5 linked regions of the Homo sapiens genome follow. The gene in region 1 interacts genetically with each later gene. Each region holds a gene or a part of one and is shown in the gene's direction. Other genes may lie near its edges.

Region 1 (3,524 bases):
GAGGGCTGCTGTGCAGGAGTGGCCTGAGACAAGCGCTGTCCGCCGTGAGAGATGGGCTCCGAAGAAACGGGCCCAGAGGCCCTGAACTCAAGCGCGTGGTGAGAGGCGTGGACATGTGCATGTGAGGGGTCCTCACGGCCAGGAGGAGAATTTGAGGGCCACTGTGCTCTAGTTAGCGTTGGCATGAATGCAAGGACGCTTTACTTCCAGAGCAAAAGAGGATTTGACCTCAGCTTGTCAAAAGTGCCACGTTTGTACTCCCAGCATGTAAGCCATCTGTGGTTGTAAGAGGCCTTTTGCTGATCCTGGGACAGATTCACCACAGGGCCCCAAGAGAACGCTCGGGCCCAGCCACAGTTAGGAGGTTGCGCGGCAAACCCTCTACACAACCTCATAGCTGTTCCTGATGGCCATTGGACAGAACTCGATGGGGAGTTTGAGTGGCCATGCGTCTCGTGTGTAGGGACAGCCCCCGTCTGTGTGGCCATCCTGGCATCTTGGGGCCACCTCACTGTCACTAGTGCTCCTGTTTGGATGAAAGATTCTCTACTCCTCCACCATAGAGGCCCCCCGCCTCCGGCCTCTGCAGAGGGATTTCTCACGATTCTCCAAGCTCTGGTCTCTGACCTCAGGCCAGCCTTGACCCTGGAGCAGTGCTGTGGTCTTGGCTCTCAGGCACGGGAGCTCAGGACTGAACTGTGTGTTTCCTGCCACTCAGCAGCCTGCACCTCAGGATGATGGGGCCGCTTTGGGTGCAGGGCTGTGCCTTGGCCGTGGGTATGGAGCGTGGGGGTGGGAAACATGGAGCCACAAATGTTTGACGGCAGCTGACACCCTTCCTTCTCCCCCGAAGCTGGAGGGGAGCGGTGATCGAGCCTGAGCAGGGCACCGAGCTCCCTTCAAGAAGAGCAGAAGTGCCCACCAAGCCTCCCCTGCCACCGGCCAGGACACAGGGCACACCAGGTGAGGCCACACCTGCACCCCTTCCTCCCCGGGCGCTCAGGGGCTGGTGGCTGATGGGTGCAGGCTTCGTCTCAGCCATGGTGGGTGGCGCCCCCGCCCTGGTGTGCACCTTGCCCTTCAGCATCCCCCTGTTGTCTGAGTCCTCACAGGCTCTGCAACCTTGGTGACACCATGTGGCTCTTGGCCTGCTGTCCCTGAGCACATGGCTGCAGAAGAAGGTGTGTCTGAGAGGTTTGTGTCTGGGCCAGGCTGCCCCACGGGATCCCTGGAGACTGCTGCCCGTGCTGTGTCCCCTGTCTCGGCCTGGCCAGTCCCAGGCAGCTCTGGGGGCCACTTCATTCTCAGCACCGTTTGTTGGGGGCCTCCCAGGTGCGGGCCTTCGGCCAAGCTCAGTGCATGACCTGAGGCCTCTTTCAACCTCATGACACCCTCTGACACGATAAGCCACTCACCCTCCCGTTCTCCAGACTGAAAAGCAGGGCTGAGGACAGCCACCCCCAGAGTCGTTTGCTTGTCTGTGGGGGCTCATGGCAGGTCGCTGAGTCTGGAGCCCTGCTCTCATCATGCCCCCCAGGTGTCTCTGAGGTGGGGAGGGAGCCCAGAGCCAGGACTCCCAGCCCCGGGCCTGTGAGGGATGTGTAGCAATCTCTGCGGCATCAATGAGGGCAGAGGCAGAGGCAGAGGCATAGACATGCCATGAGCACAAGGAGGCCTCAGAACCTTTCCTGAGAGGACGTGTGGTTTGGTGCCGTTACACACGTGTCAATCCACACATTAGTCAATGTTGGCCGGGCGTGGTGGCTCACACTTGTAATCCCAGCACTTTGGGAGGCTGAGGTAGAAGGATCTCTTGAGTCCAGGAGTTCAAGACCAGCCTGGACAACACAGTGAGGCCCCATCTCTACAAAAAAAAAAGAAATTTATATATATGTGTATATTTGAGACAGAGTCTTGCTTTGTCACTTCACTGCAACGTCTGCCTTCTGGGTTCAAGCAAGTCTCCTGCCTCAGCCTCCCTAGTAGCTGGGATTATAGGCACCCGCCACCACACCTGGCTAATTTTTGTATTTTTAGTAGAGACGGGGTTTCGCGATGTTGGCGAGGCTGGTCTCAAACTTCTGACCTCAGGTGATCTGCCCACCTCGGCCTCCCAGAGTACTGGGATTACAGGCGGGAGCCACCGTGCCCAGCCAAAAAAATTTAAAAAAAGGGAACGAAGGGACTGTAGCGCGTGTGCACAGTGCGATTCCCGTGGAGCACCTGAAGCCCACGTGGCAGAAGGAGCGTGTTTGAGTCGAGGATGTTCATCGCGAGGTCTGCACCCGTCCGTGTTTCACATTCTGAGTTGGCACCACACTCACCCACGTCTCCACAGGCTGTGCTCACTGTGCTGTCCCAGCGCCCTTGGGGCAGCCACCCTTGTCCCTTTGGCCAGAGGCCACCGAGGCCCAAGGAGGGTGTGCCTGCCCAGGCGCCAGGTGGAGGTGCATGGGCCCCAGTCAGGTGGTCGGGTGACAGGTGCCATCCTGTGCAGTCTCCAGAGGTCTCAGGCCCTTGGCAGGCTGTGTTCTCCCTGGGGGCTGCTGCAGCCTCTGTGGCCCTGGCCTTTGCTGTGCCCACCACCGCCCTTCCCGTCGTCCCAAACCCACCGTCATCTTTGCCCCATGGGGGTCACAGCAGTGCTCTGCCTGAGGGTGTCCATCTGTGCCGACGCCAGGACCACGTCCGCCATGGCCTGTGCTCTCTCCCCCCTACTAGTGCATCTGAACTATCGCCAGAAGGGCGTGATTGACGTCTTCCTGCATGCATGGAAAGGATACCGCAAGTTTGCATGGGGCCATGACGAGCTGAAGCCTGTGTCCAGGTCCTTCAGTGAGTGGTTTGGCCTCGGTCTCACACTGATCGACGCGCTGGACACCATGTGGATCTTGGGTCTGAGGAAAGGTACCTGGTGCTTTCTGGGGAGGGGCTGAGCCCTCCGTGTGGGCCTCGTGTGCTGAGGCAGAGTGTGGGTTGCACACGGGGTGAAAGCTGCTGTTTGCATCTGACCATGGGTTTTCCCTTCTCCTGGGTGCGGGAGTGGACGTGTTGGCTGTGGTCAGTTCCTGTTCTTGTCCAGCCACCCAAGGCACACACAGGGCCGCTGTCCCCAGACCTCTGCAGGAGTTGAGTGTGGACTCTTTGGGGGACGTCCAAGGGACATTCCCAGGCTGTGCTTCTCTTGCAGCTGGGGGTGGTGGGATGAGTGACTGTGGGGCCCCGCTGGTCCCAGATCTCAGCAGCATCCTTCATAGACCAGCACATCCACTTTGAATTGGGAGTATGTGTCTTCGGTTATTTAAGCGATAATTTAAACATTTGCCTAATTTTTTGAATAGGTTGAAGACCACCAGTAAACGACGTGTGTAATTTTTTTGGGTCGTAGCCTTTGGTTGTGACCCATTGGTGGCCATAGCAACTGCACTGCTGACTCCGTTTTATTAACAAATGTTGACGACTTCAAGATTTACCCCCTTGAGATAGGAGGTGATATTGAAGCCCTGCAGGGGAACGATAACGCC
Region 2 (3,524 bases), on another chromosome or scaffold:
CAAACATTAGCAATATCAGGAAAGAAAGGTTGACATCACTATAGATAAAAAAAAGAGAGAGAATATTGTAAACAGACTAAATAAATGAAGAGATATAACCATGTTCATGGATTGTAAAACTAAATATAAGATGTCTTCTCAAATTTATCTAAAAATTCATTGAAGGCCAGGTACAATGGCTCACATCTGTAATCCCAGCACTTTGGGAGGCCAAGGCAGGAGCATCACATGAGGCAAGGAGTTCAAGACCAGCCTGAGAATGTAGCAAGACCCTATCTCTACAAAAAATAAAATAATAATTAAAAAAAACTAGCTAGGCATGCTGGCACACGCCTTTAGCTCTACTTACTCAGGAAGCAGAGGTGAGAGGATCACTTGAATCCAGGAGCTCAAGGTTGCAGTGAGCTATGATTGTGCCACCTGCACTCCAGCCTGGGCAAAAGAGCAAGACTCTGTCTCCAAGAAAAAAAAAAAAAAAAAAAGATTTATTGTAACCCTAATCAAACTATCAAACATTGGCAGACTTTTTTGGGAGGGTAGATATTGACAAGCTGACTTTAAAGTTTATGTGCAAAGGCCACGGAATAGCCAAATCAACTTTGACAAAGAGGCACAATATTGGAGAGAATTTACTATTCTACAAATTTTAAGATTTATTATACTATAGTCAATTTACTATTGTTTGGCATAAGCAGACATAGATCAGTAGAGCCGAATAAGAAGTTCCAGAAGTAGATTCATATATATATGATATATTAATTTTTTGACAGAGATGCTAATTTAGTTGAAGAAGGGGTAATCTTTTTCATCAAATGGTGCTGAAACAGTTAATAGTCATATGTAAAAATATGAACCTCAACTGTTACATTATACCATTTACAAAAATTAACTGGAAGTGGATCATAGACCTAAGTGTGAGAGCTAAAACTACTTAAAATTTCTAAAAGAAAACAAATTGTAGTGACCCTGTTTTGGCAAACATTTCTTAAATGGGACAGAGAAAAGCATGAACTTATAGTTCAGAAAAAAAATCAATAAATTGTTCTTTAACTGAATTTAAAACTTTTGTTCTTCAAAAGACGGTTACACTATTATACAACATCGTGACATGGTTAATGATGATATAGTGCATTCTGGAAAAATGCTGAAAGAGTGGATGTTAAGTGTTCTCACCACAAAAAACGATAACTGTGAGATAATGCAAATTAGCTAGATTAACCATTCCACAGTGTATATATACTTTAAAACAATATGTTGTACATGATAAATATATGCAATTTTACCTATCAATTTAAATAAATAAATTTGAAGAAAAACGGTTACAAAAATGAAAAGACAAGCTACAGACTAGCAGAAAATATTTGTGAAAAATGTATCTGACAAAGGATTTATATCTAGAATATATGAAGAATGCTTATAATTCATTAATAAGAAGACATCCACTTTTTAAAAATGATCTAAAGATTTGAACCAGCAATTACTACAGAAGATATACTACTGATGGGAACGTAAAATGATACAATCACTTTGGAAAACAATTTGGTAGTTTCTTTAGAAATTAAAAGGCCGAGGCGGGAGGATTGCTTCAGCCTAGGAGTTTGAGACCAGCCTGGGCAATGTAGGGAGACTTCTTCTATACAAAAATAAGAAATTTTTTAAAAAAGTAGCTGAACATGGTGGTACATACTTGTAGTCCCAGCTACTCCAGAGGCTGAGGTGGTAGGATCACTTAAGCCTGAGAGGTCAAGGCTGCAGTGAGCCATGATCATGCCACTGTATTCCAGCCTAGGCCACAGAGCAAGACCCTGTCTCAAAAAAAAGAAATAAAGCACACATCTATATTTCCTAGCCACTTTACTCCCAGATGTTTACCCAACATAAATATGTCTTCATGTGTCCACAGAATTATGTACAAATATTCATACCAGCTTTATTTCTAATAGCCCCAAACTGGAAACAACCCAAATATCAATTAACAGATGAATCGAAAAATAGTGATACAGCATTACAACAGACTACAACTCAGCTATAAAGAGGAATGAACTATTGATACATGCAGCAAAATGGATGATTCTCAAAATAATTACAGAGTGAAAAAACTCAGACCAAAAATACCATGTGATTACATTTATATAAAAATCCTAGTAAATGTGTACTAATCTGTAGTGGCAGAAAGCAGATCATCAGCTGCCTAGGGTGCAGGGGCAAGAAGGGATGGATTACAATGGAGTATGAGGAAACTTTTGGGAGACTGATGGCTTCACGGGCTTACATATCTTAAAACTCAACAAATTTTGCATTTAAGTACAACTTCTTTTATGTCTGTTACACCTCAAAAAAGCTATAATGTAAAACATCGTTATACTGTATAGATTTTAGAGTGTTGTTTTAATAGAAATTGAGATTTGCTATTAAGAGAAAATATTACCTAAGTGATATTTACATTATAAAAAGCTAAACATTGTTTACTTCTTTGTGTAGAGAAGAAACTATTATCATATTCTCTGAAGGCCTTTCTTGGGTATTCTTTTCCACATTTAAATCATCTCACTAAACCTTTTTAAGGTTATAAAGCTATTGGAGGGAAGTTTTAGTCTTTCTATGATGGAAATAGTTATTCTGTCATTCAAGGTATGAAATAATAAGAGGAGAATACTTGGAAAATAAAGAGAATTTTTATCCTTTTATTTTACCAATTTTTTCCTTGTGGCTGAAACATGATGAGTGACAGCTTACTGGTGGCTTAAATTTGGTCACCGACCACTAGGAGCTGATAGTTCAAATGTGAGAAGAAATAAACAAAGCATAGTATGTAAACGAGATGTTTCTGATGATCGTAGGTGGGTGACCTTTAAAATCAGGAGTATAACGAACAAGAAAGAACAGAGAGAAATAAATGAGATGATTATTTTTAGATGAATTGAACTGTGGATAGACATCAAAACAGGGAATAAGCAATTTTTGAATTAGACGCATTAAGCAGTAGGGAGCCAGTGAAGGGCAGTGACCTAGTCAGAGCAACAGATGACACAAATTTTTCTTACTATGGCATTTTATTAATAAATTGGTTATATAAGAAATAGGAAGCAGAGATTTAAAAAATGAAAGTTTTTTAATAGTGTAAGGGTTGTAATGCAAACCCTAAACAAAAAGGGGCCATAAATTAAAAGAAAGATACTTAAGTAACCTAAGCAACTTAAGTGGGATTCAGAGGGAGTGAACTAAGACAACAATATGATGTAATGCCTGGAAAACTGAGGTATTTTTAAAACTTTGCACTAAGTATATCGTCAAGTACTATGGCTTTTGAGTTTTTTGATTTGACCTATAGTAAGAAATGTATTTTACATCATGACCTAGTAAATAAATTGTGTATACACCTACACATATAACAAAATATTCGTAAATTATACCTTTATACGTAAGTTCCATGAAACAGTAGATGGAACTTATGTATATAGGTGATAGACTCTGATATTTTATATTGTTTCTTTTTTTTTTCCCTTCCCAAGATGGAGTCTCAC
Region 3 (3,524 bases), on another chromosome or scaffold:
GTTGGGCCTGACCAAGCCAGCCATGCCCATGCAGCAAGCACGACCTGCACAACCACAGGAGCACCCTTTTGCTTCAAGCAGGTGAGAGCCCAACATGGAGTGTTACACGTATTGTGATGGACATGCAGATGATCCATGGGAGTAAGGGAAGAAAAATATTAGAATTTGTATTTTCTTATTATTAGAGAAAAAGATAAATGATTAAGCCTAATCAATATTCAGTGTTTTGTCAAAAAGGTTTGGAGACCACTGTGCTCAATTGCTGTTTTTAGACATTCCACATCTGATGTCCTTTTTGATGCTTAAGTAAAACTGGAAAAACTGAAAAGACTTCTTTCATGTGTCCTCAAACATACTTATGACCGGGTATTCACTTGACTCAGCCCATTGAGTGCCTAGACTGAGCTAACAAGCTCGATAAAATGCATTGCCCGACATGCTGAAGACAACCTCTTACTTTCAAGGCTTAAGAGAAGCACAGATTAGAATGATGAGGAATGATGAAGATTGTCCACATAAATGGACCTCACATAGACTGAACTCATGTTAGGCATGTCCTTAGGATTTTTTTGCTGTCTAAAAATTAATTAAACTGAATTGCTCCTTTTCCAGACAATTTTTTTTTCCGTGCAACATAAGTAAATTGCTAAGTACTGGGCTTTATATTCCTCAATAAAACTGCTTTAAATTGTTTTGTGTTAGTAGAGAGATAGCTTTGAAGAAAAAAATTACCAGTCAGTTACTACTCTGAATAATTATCTTGAAGAGCAGTAATTATGTGGCACCTAGTGTTGAAGACCAGAGTACTTTATTCAATCTGGGTTGATGTGTCTGTTAAAATCTTGCAGATTTCTGCAGCCTGTTCACAAGATTGATATGAACCTCACTGATCTTCTTGGGGAGCTACAGAGGGACCCATGGCCAGTAACTCAGGGGAAGAGACCTTTGCGATCCACTGGTGTGGCTTTGTCCATTGCTGTTGGCTTGCTGGAGGTAATTTAAAATTTACCAGGACCTCTCAAATCATACAAATGTGCTCTCAGAAAATATATTTGTTGGCTTTGTTTGAAAATCACTTGTGATCTAAGTCAACCGTCTGTGTTAATGTATCAGAAAGCATTTGAGGCATCATTATCATTCACGTTGAGGGAGCCCCTCAACATTTTGAAAATGCCAAAAGTTTTCATTGAAAAACTAAGAATTAGAGCAATAGGGAGCACTCAAACAGCGAATTAATAAAACTGTGCAAACCCATAAGGTTGGAAGAAGACAAGTGCTGCTTTTCTGCATTATCATCTGTATTATTCTGCATTATCACCACTTTTTAGGACAGCTGGAGAGAATGCATCTTTGGAGTATTTCTATTGGGAAACTGAAACCATACTAAAAGGTGAGGCTGTATACTTCTAACATGCTGCCATTCGCTATTTTAGGGCACTTTTCCAAACACAGGAGCCAGGATCATGCTGTTTACTGGAGGTCCCCCTACCCAAGGGCCTGGCATGGTGGTTGGAGATGAATTAAAGATTCCTATTCGTTCTTGGCATGATATTGAGAAAGATAATGCACGATTCATGAAAAAGGCAACCAAGGTAGGTGCTCTTGGGTATGGGCTGTAATTCTGAAAGCCCATTGTCAGGTTTGGGCTGCTCTGGAGTGACAGCTACTTTGCCAAGGTCATGTGTCATGGTCAGCAAGACGCTGTTTCAGAGACAGTTTTCCAATCTTAGCTGCTGTTAAATTATTGCTCCTACTTTCAGACCTTAATTAGAGTGGGTGGCCTTAAAACTACTCAAAGGGTTTTGAGAATGAAAACTATATTTTTATTTTATTCAGATATTTTTGAAAATGATTTCCAGGCCAGTCCCGGTGGCTCACGGCTGTAATCCCAGCGCTTTGGGAGGCCGAGGCTGGCAGATCACTTCAGGTCAGGAGTTCAAGACCAGCCTAGCCAACGTGGTGAAACCATATCTCTACTAAAAATACAAAATTTAAGCCAGGAGTGGTGACTCACGCCTGTAGTCCCAGCACTTTGGGATGCCAAGGTGGGCGGATCACTTGAGGTCAGGAGTTCGAGACGAGTCTTGCCAACATGGCGAAACGCCTGTCTGTACTAAAAATACAAAAATTAGCTGGGCATGGTGGCATGTGCCTGTAATTTCAGCTACTCGGGAGGCTGAGGCACGAGAATCCGTTGAACCTGGGAGGCAGAGGTTGCAGTGAGCTGAGATCGTGCCACTGCACTCCAGCCTGGGTGACGGAGTGAGACTGTCTCAAAAAGTAAATAAAAATAAAAATACAAAAATTTGCTGGGGATGGTGGCGCACGCTTTTAATCCCAGCTACTTGGGAGGCTGAGGCAGGATGATCACTTGAACCCGGGAGGTGGAGATCGCACCACTGCACTCTAGCCTGGGCAACAGAGAGAGACTCTGTCACAAAAAGAGAAAAGAAAATGATTTACATGTTTTTATATTTGATTACCTCCTTCGGTAATTCAGGCATACCTTGGGAATAATGTCACTGTTTCCTAAAGATAGCTTTCCTCTCTTCACAGCACTATGAGATGCTTGCTAATCGAACAGCTGCAAATGGTCACTGCATTGATATTTATGCTTGTGCCCTTGATCAAACTGGACTTTTGGAGATGAAGTGTTGTGCAAATCTTACTGGGTATGTTGACAGTGAAAACCTGGGCAGAGTGACAGTGTTATTTTAAGGAAAGAGAAATTAGTGATGGAGCCATAGGAATGGGCAAGGCCAACTCAGAGAAGCTTTCAGGTAGCTCTGGGCTATGGTTTCAGTGACTGGGGAGGGCCTGTGGGCTCCTTGGAGAGGGAAGTAGTGATTAGTAGGAGGGCTCAAGAGTTCACTACAAATAAGTCGTTTCAGAGTAACTTATTTCTTCCTTAGAGTTGTTAACACTTTTACAGAGACCAGGCCAAGAAAGCAAGCAGCATGGACTATCTGGCCTTCATCAGGGCACTTCCTTTTGAGAATTGGGGAAAACAGGGTCTGAATGCTGAAACAACTAGGATAAACCTGGCTAAGTGGCCATACTTTGTGACTAACTCCAAGTGCACTCAGCCTAGAGGTTGTACTGACTCAAAGCCTGAGTCAGTATTGTATTCACAGGCCAGAGTGTGGAGCAGTGGTTCTCAACATGTGGTGGTGTCCAGATTTGCAGCCTTAGGGGCTCCTGGGAACTGATTGGAATTGTATATTTCTAGGCCTTACCCAGACCTCCTGAATCGGAAACCCCGGGAATGCAGCTCTCTAGGAGATTCTAGGGCACATGAAAGTGTAGGAACCACTGATGAGCACTGGTCTGCAGCTGCCTACGTATTGTTATCACCAGGGGAACTTTAAAAGCTACACTTTCTTTAGGTCTTGTCCTCAGAGATTCTAATTTAATTAGCATGAGGTGCAGCCTGGGCATCAGCATTTTAAAAGTTTCTCCCGTGATTCTAACATAGAGCCGAGTTTGAGAACCATGCAGCATCTTGAGCCTCACTCTAGACCTGA
Region 4 (3,524 bases), on another chromosome or scaffold:
CTTGAGTCTGGGAATTGGAGATCCACCTGGGCAATATGGCAAAACGCTGTGTCCTCAAAACAAAAGTTAGCTGGGTGTGGCGCATGTCTGTAGTCCCAAGCTACTCAGGAGGCTGAGGTGGAAGGATGGCTTGAGGGAGGCGGAGGTTGTAGTGAGCTGAGATTGTGCCATTGTACTCTAGCTTGGGTGACAGCCAGACCCTGTCTGAAAAAAACAAAAGGAATGAAGCTTATAGTTCTTATCCTTAAAAAAGTCAGTGTCCTGTAATCTAAGTCTGACTTTGAGTTTTTGTTAATTGAGAACTTATTATTTAAAACAACTTTAGGTAGCATTTTATTGTGATAATGTACATTATGGTGTAAAATTCATAGGGCTTGTGAAACATGAGCTGAAACATAGTTCCATTGCTAACTCTGACGCAGCAGCTTTTGTAATAAAATGCTAAAGAGAAACTGAAGCATGTGTTCTTGACTTGTATTGCTAAATAAAAAATATATAGTTGTATTACTTAATTGATATATAAAGTGGGAAGGCTAATAAAATGTTGATAGAAGTCCTTGGTGAACCTGCTTTGGGGAAGTTTTTAGTAACTTTTATACTTTGTACAGTAGAGTCTCAACTTCAGTTACTCTTCTGTAGTTGTATAAATTTGAGTGTAGTTTGAGAATTACATTGCATGACCTTGAGGGAAGTTTCATGTTTTCACAGACTGAAATTCTGGAAGAATATATTATTTAAATTTGTCATTAATTTATGAATCACCCATGGATTTTGCTGGTCTAGCCTGGGTGACAGAGCCAGACCCTGTCTGATTTTGCTGACCAAAGCAGATTAGGCACACAATCTTTATTGTAACTAAGATACGTTTTGGAGAGCAGGATGATGTGGATATGATTGAAAAGACAAAATATCTAAGTGTCACTTGATTTTGGCTTAGATAGAAAGAAATCAACCCCTAGTTTAAATGAGATTAGTGCAAGTGAAATGAGATGAAAACAGGCCTCTAGTGTGTACATAAGCTTGAATTTGAATATATGAATACATTAAAACCTGCATTTTAATTATATGCTCCTTTTATCCCACTTTTTCTTTTCCTTGTCTGTCTACGGTACTTGTTATCTTTATGAACTCTCCAGTTGTCCTAAATTTGTTACCTAGGGATTATTTGAGATTTTTTCCACATTCCCTGGCTGCTACTAGTCCTGTGTGTGGCCTTTCCCAGCGTGTTCTTACCTGTGGGCCATGATCATAGTGCTGGGCCGAGCCTACGCCATCTCACCCTTTAAAGAGCTTCTGTGTCCTCCCAGTCAGGCATAGCCAGTCCATTCTGCTTATTATAATTATCTTTCTAAAATTCTGTTTTCAACCAATACTCTTTTCAAAGGCCTCTTAAGACTTAGACTTGTCTTCACTTGGAATTAGTCTCTTTAAACATGTACTTCAGAACTGTCCAGTCTTTATCTATAACTGCTGTCATTTTTATTCTTCATTGAAAATGCTCTTCCTCCTATGAATGTCAACTTTCTTTACCTTGTATGCTTAACTATTCTATTCTGTCTTAACTTTTGTTTGATTGGCTATTCTTCTTTCTTCTCTGTTGTCTTCCAAAGCTTGATAAAAACTCATCTATCATCTTTACTAGCACTGTCAACTTTGATATTCATCTCATTCATCTAAATATTGAAATATTTTATGTTTTTGTAGAATGTTCTTATTTTACATATAAGTACATATCCTTTTGGCATAAACTTTAATGGACTATCAATACTCTGTATCCCTAGAATTTTATTATATTGGATGTCTTACATTTTTTTTTCATTTTACCTTAAACTATTACAAGTTAATGGCTGTTTTAATAACTGGATCATCAAGTGGAGTTTGGGAGTCTTAGGGTAGTTTTTTGGTATGGGTCTTTATAGTTGATCTTGATACACCATATTTCATCATCCTCTATTAACATCTAAAGTGCGCGTTAAAACTGATGATGGCTGGGCATGGTGGCTCATGGTGTCAGACACCTGTTATCCCAGCACTTTGGGAGCCAAGGCGGGTGGATCACTTGAGCTCAGGAGTTCGAGACCAGCCTGGGCAGCATAGTGAGACACTCGTCTCAATTAAAAAACAAAAACAGAAAAACAGACGATGTCTTCTCATAATCTAGAGCATCTTTTTCTTTCTTAGAGGTATGTACAATAATGGTGGTAAGTTTTAATGATTGATGACAGACTAAGTGCATTATTTTTTCTAGAATTAAATTTTTTTTCTGTCAACAGTTTTCTCAGATATGCTTATTGGTGAGAGGGGTCTTTTATTTTTTGATAAATTTTAGAGTTTGCTCTCTGACTAGTATTTTAAATCTGGAGAACTGGGTAAAGACATGTACACATGAAAAAAAGGTTGTATTTTAGTTATTTCACATTTGATACTTAGAGTAAACCTGCTTTTTAAATATATTTTTTTCTTTTAGGTGGAAGATGAAACTGTTTTACATAACATTCCTTATATGGGAGATGAAGTTTTAGATCAGGATGGTACTTTCATTGAAGAACTAATAAAAAATTATGATGGGAAAGTACACGGGGATAGAGGTGAGCCATATGCTTCTTCTCTTGGAAAAAGGGGCTAAAGAATTGAGAGACACTTTTGTTTATGAAGCATATAGGGCATGAGAAAAATTTTAATATTAAAATTAAGTTTTGCACTGAACTATAAGGGACTGAACCTGGGCCCAGGCCTAAGATTTTCAGTATTTTCCCTAACTATTTTTGGGAAAATTAGTTAGGAGGATCATGTTTGCCACCTGATAATTATGCATAGTTGGTTATAACATAATGGCAATAACATGTAAATTAAATAGAACTTGAGTGTATGTAGATTTTAAGATTCTTTAGTAGTAAAATTAATTAGGATTGGGGCTCTGCTTCTGTGGCATATAGGGGCTCCAACAGCCCCTACTACTAAAAAATACCGCTCCTCTAGGGACTACAGTACCTGAAATTCAATCCTTAGAGTCATGGTTTCAGTTTTTTGTGTCCAGGAGGCCCTGTTAAAGTGTCTGAAAGGATAATATTTGTAATATCATCATCCATTGTCATTATCAGCAGAAAGCAGGGTCTGAAATGATCAGTTAAAGGACAGATCCATTGTTTGGGAGGAGGCCAAAGCCACAATCAGTTCCTAGAAGATTCAGTTTTCTACTAGAAAGTTTTGGGGAGGGGCCATTCTACAGAAAGTAGCAGGTATTAAAGATAAGTTTGCTTCCTTTGCCTAACACCAGTCCTGAAAATGATCTTATCTTTTCCTCCCCTCATTTCAATAATAATGTTTTAGTGCCAGTTACTAGGCTATGCCTGTTTTGTCCAAGTAGAAAAAGGATACATAAACTTTTGACATTATTGCTTCTCCTGTGTGTTTCTGACATTTGATGCGTTTCAGAATGTGGGTTTATAAATGATGAAATTTTTGTGGAGTTGGTGAATGCCCTTGGTCAATATAATGATGATGACGATGATGATGATGGAGAC
Region 5 (3,500 bases), on another chromosome or scaffold:
CTGGGTAGTACCCTCTGCTTATCCTTTCCTGAGTCTTAGCAACAGCAGCTTGTGGGGTGCAGGGTGATGGACATGTGCCCTGTGCCGTGTGGCCTTGGAGCTTTAGTTGATGCTTTTGGACTTCGACTATCAGAAATAGTATTTAAATAGTATTTAATTAGCAAGGATTCTTCACCTGGTTCCTAGAGTAGGGGTCCAATCTTGGGCTTTGAGTCCTGTGATTCCAAGTATGTGTACAATTTGTGTTTGTGTGCACTTTATTGAAATGAGGGGGTCCATCGTTTTCATCTGATTTTTATTTTATTTTTTTGAGACAGGGTCTTGGTATGTTGCCCAGGTTGGAGCACAATGGCGCAATCATAGCTTACTGCAGCCTTGACCCCCTGGGCTCAAGGAATACTCCTGCTTCAGCCTCCCAAGTACCTAGGAGACTACAGGTGTACACCACCATGCCCAGCTAATTTTTTAAAATTTTATTTTTTGGAAACAGGGTCTTGCTGTGTCACCCAGGTTGGTCTAGAACTCCTGGGCTCAAGCGATTCTCCTACCTTGGCCTCCCAAAGTACTAGGATTATAAGCATGAGCCACTGCACACAACTCATCTGATTTTTAAAGGAGACTTGGGGTTGGGGTACAGGACCAAAAATGTTTAGAATCAGAGTCCTAGAAGTCCAATGGAGCTCTGTCTCCACGCCTTTTTCTCATATAGGGGGTTATAGTATAGTGTCATGGGTCTATCGTCTGTCTCCAGCAGTCTGAACAGCCAGAGAGGAAGGACTCCTGAGGGTGTACAACTGTTTGGCATTTCTGGTTGCAATTGCTAGCCGTTAGTCCAGTGAGAACATCATATCACTTAAAATTCCACACCCGAAGTGTGTAGGTGAGAGTGTATGAAAAGCACAGAATAGGCTTTTGTGGAAAAGTATGTAATTCATGTTTTTGGCCCACTTGCCTCTGGGGCTACTCGCCTTTTATACAGCGGGGGTCACACACAAGCCCCTGTCAGGGTGTGCTGACTCTTCCTCCTCATCTTTCTTCCCCAGCTGCAGTCTCACCTGATCCCTGGCCTGAACCTGGCTGCTGTAGGTCTTTTCCCAGCTTCATCCAGCGCAGTCCCGCCGCCTCCCAGCAGCGTTACTGGGGCTGCTCCCTATAGCTCCTTTATGGTAGGTGGAAGATCTTATTACACGGGATCCCTGGGCCCATATGTGGCCTCCCTTAAGGGGGACTCAGCATGCTCTGGGAGTTGGATGCTTGGCAAGTTTGCAGGGAGAGGGAAGGAAGGTCTCAGAGGCATCCCTCCTCTCCAGTGCTCCTAGCCACTGGCTCTGAGGCTCCCAAATGTCTGCCTAGAATGCTCCCGGGGCATAGACAGCACTGTTCCCTTACTCTCTCCTGGCCTCTTCCCTTTAGCCCTACTGGGCATAGGAAGAGCTAAAGAGCTCACAGCATCCCTTGGCAGCCCAGGGTGGCGGTTTGGTGCCTGTACTCCTTCCTCCTTGAGGATGCAAGGCAGGGGAGTGGAGGGTTTCTGGGCCATGCTACTTGGGCCCCCTGGTAACAACGCCTCCTATCCTGGCAGCAGGCTCCCGAGCAGGAGATGGTGCAGGTGTTTATCCCCGCCCAGGCAGTGGGCGCCATCATCGGCAAGAAGGGGCAGCACATCAAACAGCTCTCCCGGTTTGCCAGCGCCTCCATCAAGGTGATCTGCTCTGTGGGTCTTCCTGTTTCTGGAAAGGGAGGGGTCTCTGCTTTTATCACTCTGCACTTTCTCCCATATTCCCCCTACTCATTTGAGAATTCTGTGTGTCATATGAGGGACCTTTCCCCCATGGAATCGAAGTCCTCTTTGTTTTTGATCTTGCTTGGTCCCCATGGGATGGCTTCAGTGCTTCTGGGTTTTCAGGCTGGGCAGGGGCAGGGTTATAACATAGAAAGAGAACTTAGGTTCTAACACAAACTGATGGGTTCAAATCCAAGATCCATCTCATCACCCCTTCCCCCAATACACTATATGATCTGAGCCTCACTTTCCTCGTCAGTACAATATTATGAGGCTACGCAGCCAAAGCCCTTCGCTCACATACTAACACCAAGTAAGTGTTAGTTGTCTGTCACCTTCCCTGGCCAAGGTCCAGGGGAGAGAGAAGGGAGAATCTGTCATAGTGAAACAAGGATGCTGTTAGAGTTTCACAAACCTAAATCCGGTTGCTTTAGTTGTCTTAAAAGCTTTGAGCAAAAACCTTGATTGTTCTCCAGTGGAGGTGCAGTCACTGCCCTCTATCCGTTGGTCATTTCATTTGTGTCCTTGCCTGTTGGCAAGACTCCACTGAAACCTCTCTGGGAGATTGGTAGGTGGAGGGGGCAGGAGGCCCTACTTAGAAAGTGTCATTGAAGCCAATCCTTCTAACTGACCACCTCTGCCCTCCTAATAATTCTGGTGTGAAGGCGTAATGATGTGGGCTTCAGGGTCTTTGTTCTTCCTCCCCTAAGTCTTCAGAATGGGTAGTTGGGAGTAAGGGTGGTAGAAGGGGAACTGGATGAAGTGGACATGGTGGGGGTCTTCCCATAGAGGGTCCCTCATTGACTAGCTTTTTGCTTTTTAGATTGCACCACCCGAAACACCTGACTCCAAAGTTCGTATGGTTATCATCACTGGACCGCCAGAGGCCCAATTCAAGGTTTTGGTCTTTATTGTTTTCCAAGCTGAACATGGAGGAATTGAGGTTGGGTATTTCCCCTGAGGTAGGAAAAAGGCTGGGTCAGTTTCCCGTTAGCTGTCAAGTCCTCATCACATCTTTAAGCCTTCCATGCAGGATAAAGGGCTGCAGAGCTATTTTCAAATTGACATCAAACTGGATTTCTGTTGACTTCGTCTTCCCTTTTTAAGGTCCACAGAAGAAGATGGGAAGGAAAGAAGTCTGAGGGCATCTTATTTGCACTCTGCTGTCATTTCTAAGGAAGGCCTTTAATGCCAAATTCTCATCTTTTATGTCCCCACTAAATCCTAAGGTTCTTGAACTTCTGATCAGACAGCCAAAAAATGAACCATCAACTAGCTTAACCTAACATATGTGAGGATAGAGGACTGGGACAGCTCTCTGGGCCACTGGAGAGTCAGACAGGCCTGCCCTCTGTGTGACTTGATTAGTTGCCATTCAGGGCCTTGAAATGCTGGTCAGTGCCACGTCCAGATTCCATAGGTCTGGTTTGTAGCTTGTGAATTAGATTCCTCTGGGAACTATTTTTTCCCTTGGGAAGTGTTTATTCAATTACTCATAACTCATAATCTCCACCCAGGGTCTCCAGTATGATAGCTAAGCAGAAGGAATGCTGACAAGCTGCCCACCTGAGCCTTGCCCTTCACCTGCCTTAGATGGTTAGCCCGCCTAGGATGGGGAGGGCCTGTGGGCCAGAAAATATGGGCTGGAGCTTCCTTTTTCCCACTTTTCTCTTTTGTCACAGATATATGAACCACTGATTAACAATTACCTCCTCTT

The links.
Region 2: changes in MAN1B1 (region 1) and RAB2A together harm fitness more than expected from each alone (negative genetic interaction), as found in Homo sapiens cells (one large-scale study listed by BioGRID).
Region 3: changes in MAN1B1 (region 1) and SEC23B together harm fitness less than expected from each alone (positive genetic interaction), as found in Homo sapiens cells (one large-scale study listed by BioGRID).
Region 4: changes in MAN1B1 (region 1) and EZH2 together harm fitness more than expected from each alone (negative genetic interaction), as found in Homo sapiens cells (one large-scale study listed by BioGRID).
Region 5: changes in MAN1B1 (region 1) and IGF2BP1 together harm fitness less than expected from each alone (positive genetic interaction), as found in Homo sapiens cells (one large-scale study listed by BioGRID).

Annotation. Positions count from the first base shown.
Region 1 is NC_000009.12:137,096,975-137,100,498, forward strand, and holds part of MAN1B1 (endoplasmic reticulum mannosyl-oligosaccharide 1,2-alpha-mannosidase), read left to right. Parts: intron 1-853; coding exon 854-963; intron 964-2,721; coding exon 2,722-2,907; intron 2,908-3,524. UniProt on the Homo sapiens protein: Involved in glycoprotein quality control targeting of misfolded glycoproteins for degradation.
Region 2 is NC_000008.11:60,586,471-60,589,994, forward strand, and holds part of RAB2A (ras-related protein Rab-2A), read left to right. Parts: intron 1-3,524.
Region 3 is NC_000020.11:18,524,940-18,528,463, forward strand, and holds part of SEC23B (protein transport protein Sec23B), read left to right. Parts: coding exon 1-81; intron 82-848; coding exon 849-993; intron 994-1,433; coding exon 1,434-1,592; intron 1,593-2,556; coding exon 2,557-2,672; intron 2,673-3,524. UniProt on the Homo sapiens protein: Component of the coat protein complex II (COPII) which promotes the formation of transport vesicles from the endoplasmic reticulum (ER).
Region 4 is NC_000007.14:148,828,792-148,832,315, reverse strand, and holds part of EZH2 (histone-lysine N-methyltransferase EZH2), read left to right. Parts: intron 1-2,467; coding exon 2,468-2,588; intron 2,589-3,435; coding exon 3,436-3,524. UniProt on the Homo sapiens protein: Polycomb group (PcG) protein. Catalytic subunit of the PRC2/EED-EZH2 complex, which methylates 'Lys-9' (H3K9me) and 'Lys-27' (H3K27me) of histone H3, leading to transcriptional repression of the affected target gene.
Region 5 is NC_000017.11:49,042,385-49,045,884, forward strand, and holds part of IGF2BP1 (insulin-like growth factor 2 mRNA-binding protein 1), read left to right. Parts: intron 1-1,043; coding exon 1,044-1,166; intron 1,167-1,582; coding exon 1,583-1,702; intron 1,703-2,606; coding exon 2,607-2,681; intron 2,682-3,500. UniProt on the Homo sapiens protein: RNA-binding factor that recruits target transcripts to cytoplasmic protein-RNA complexes (mRNPs). This transcript 'caging' into mRNPs allows mRNA transport and transient storage.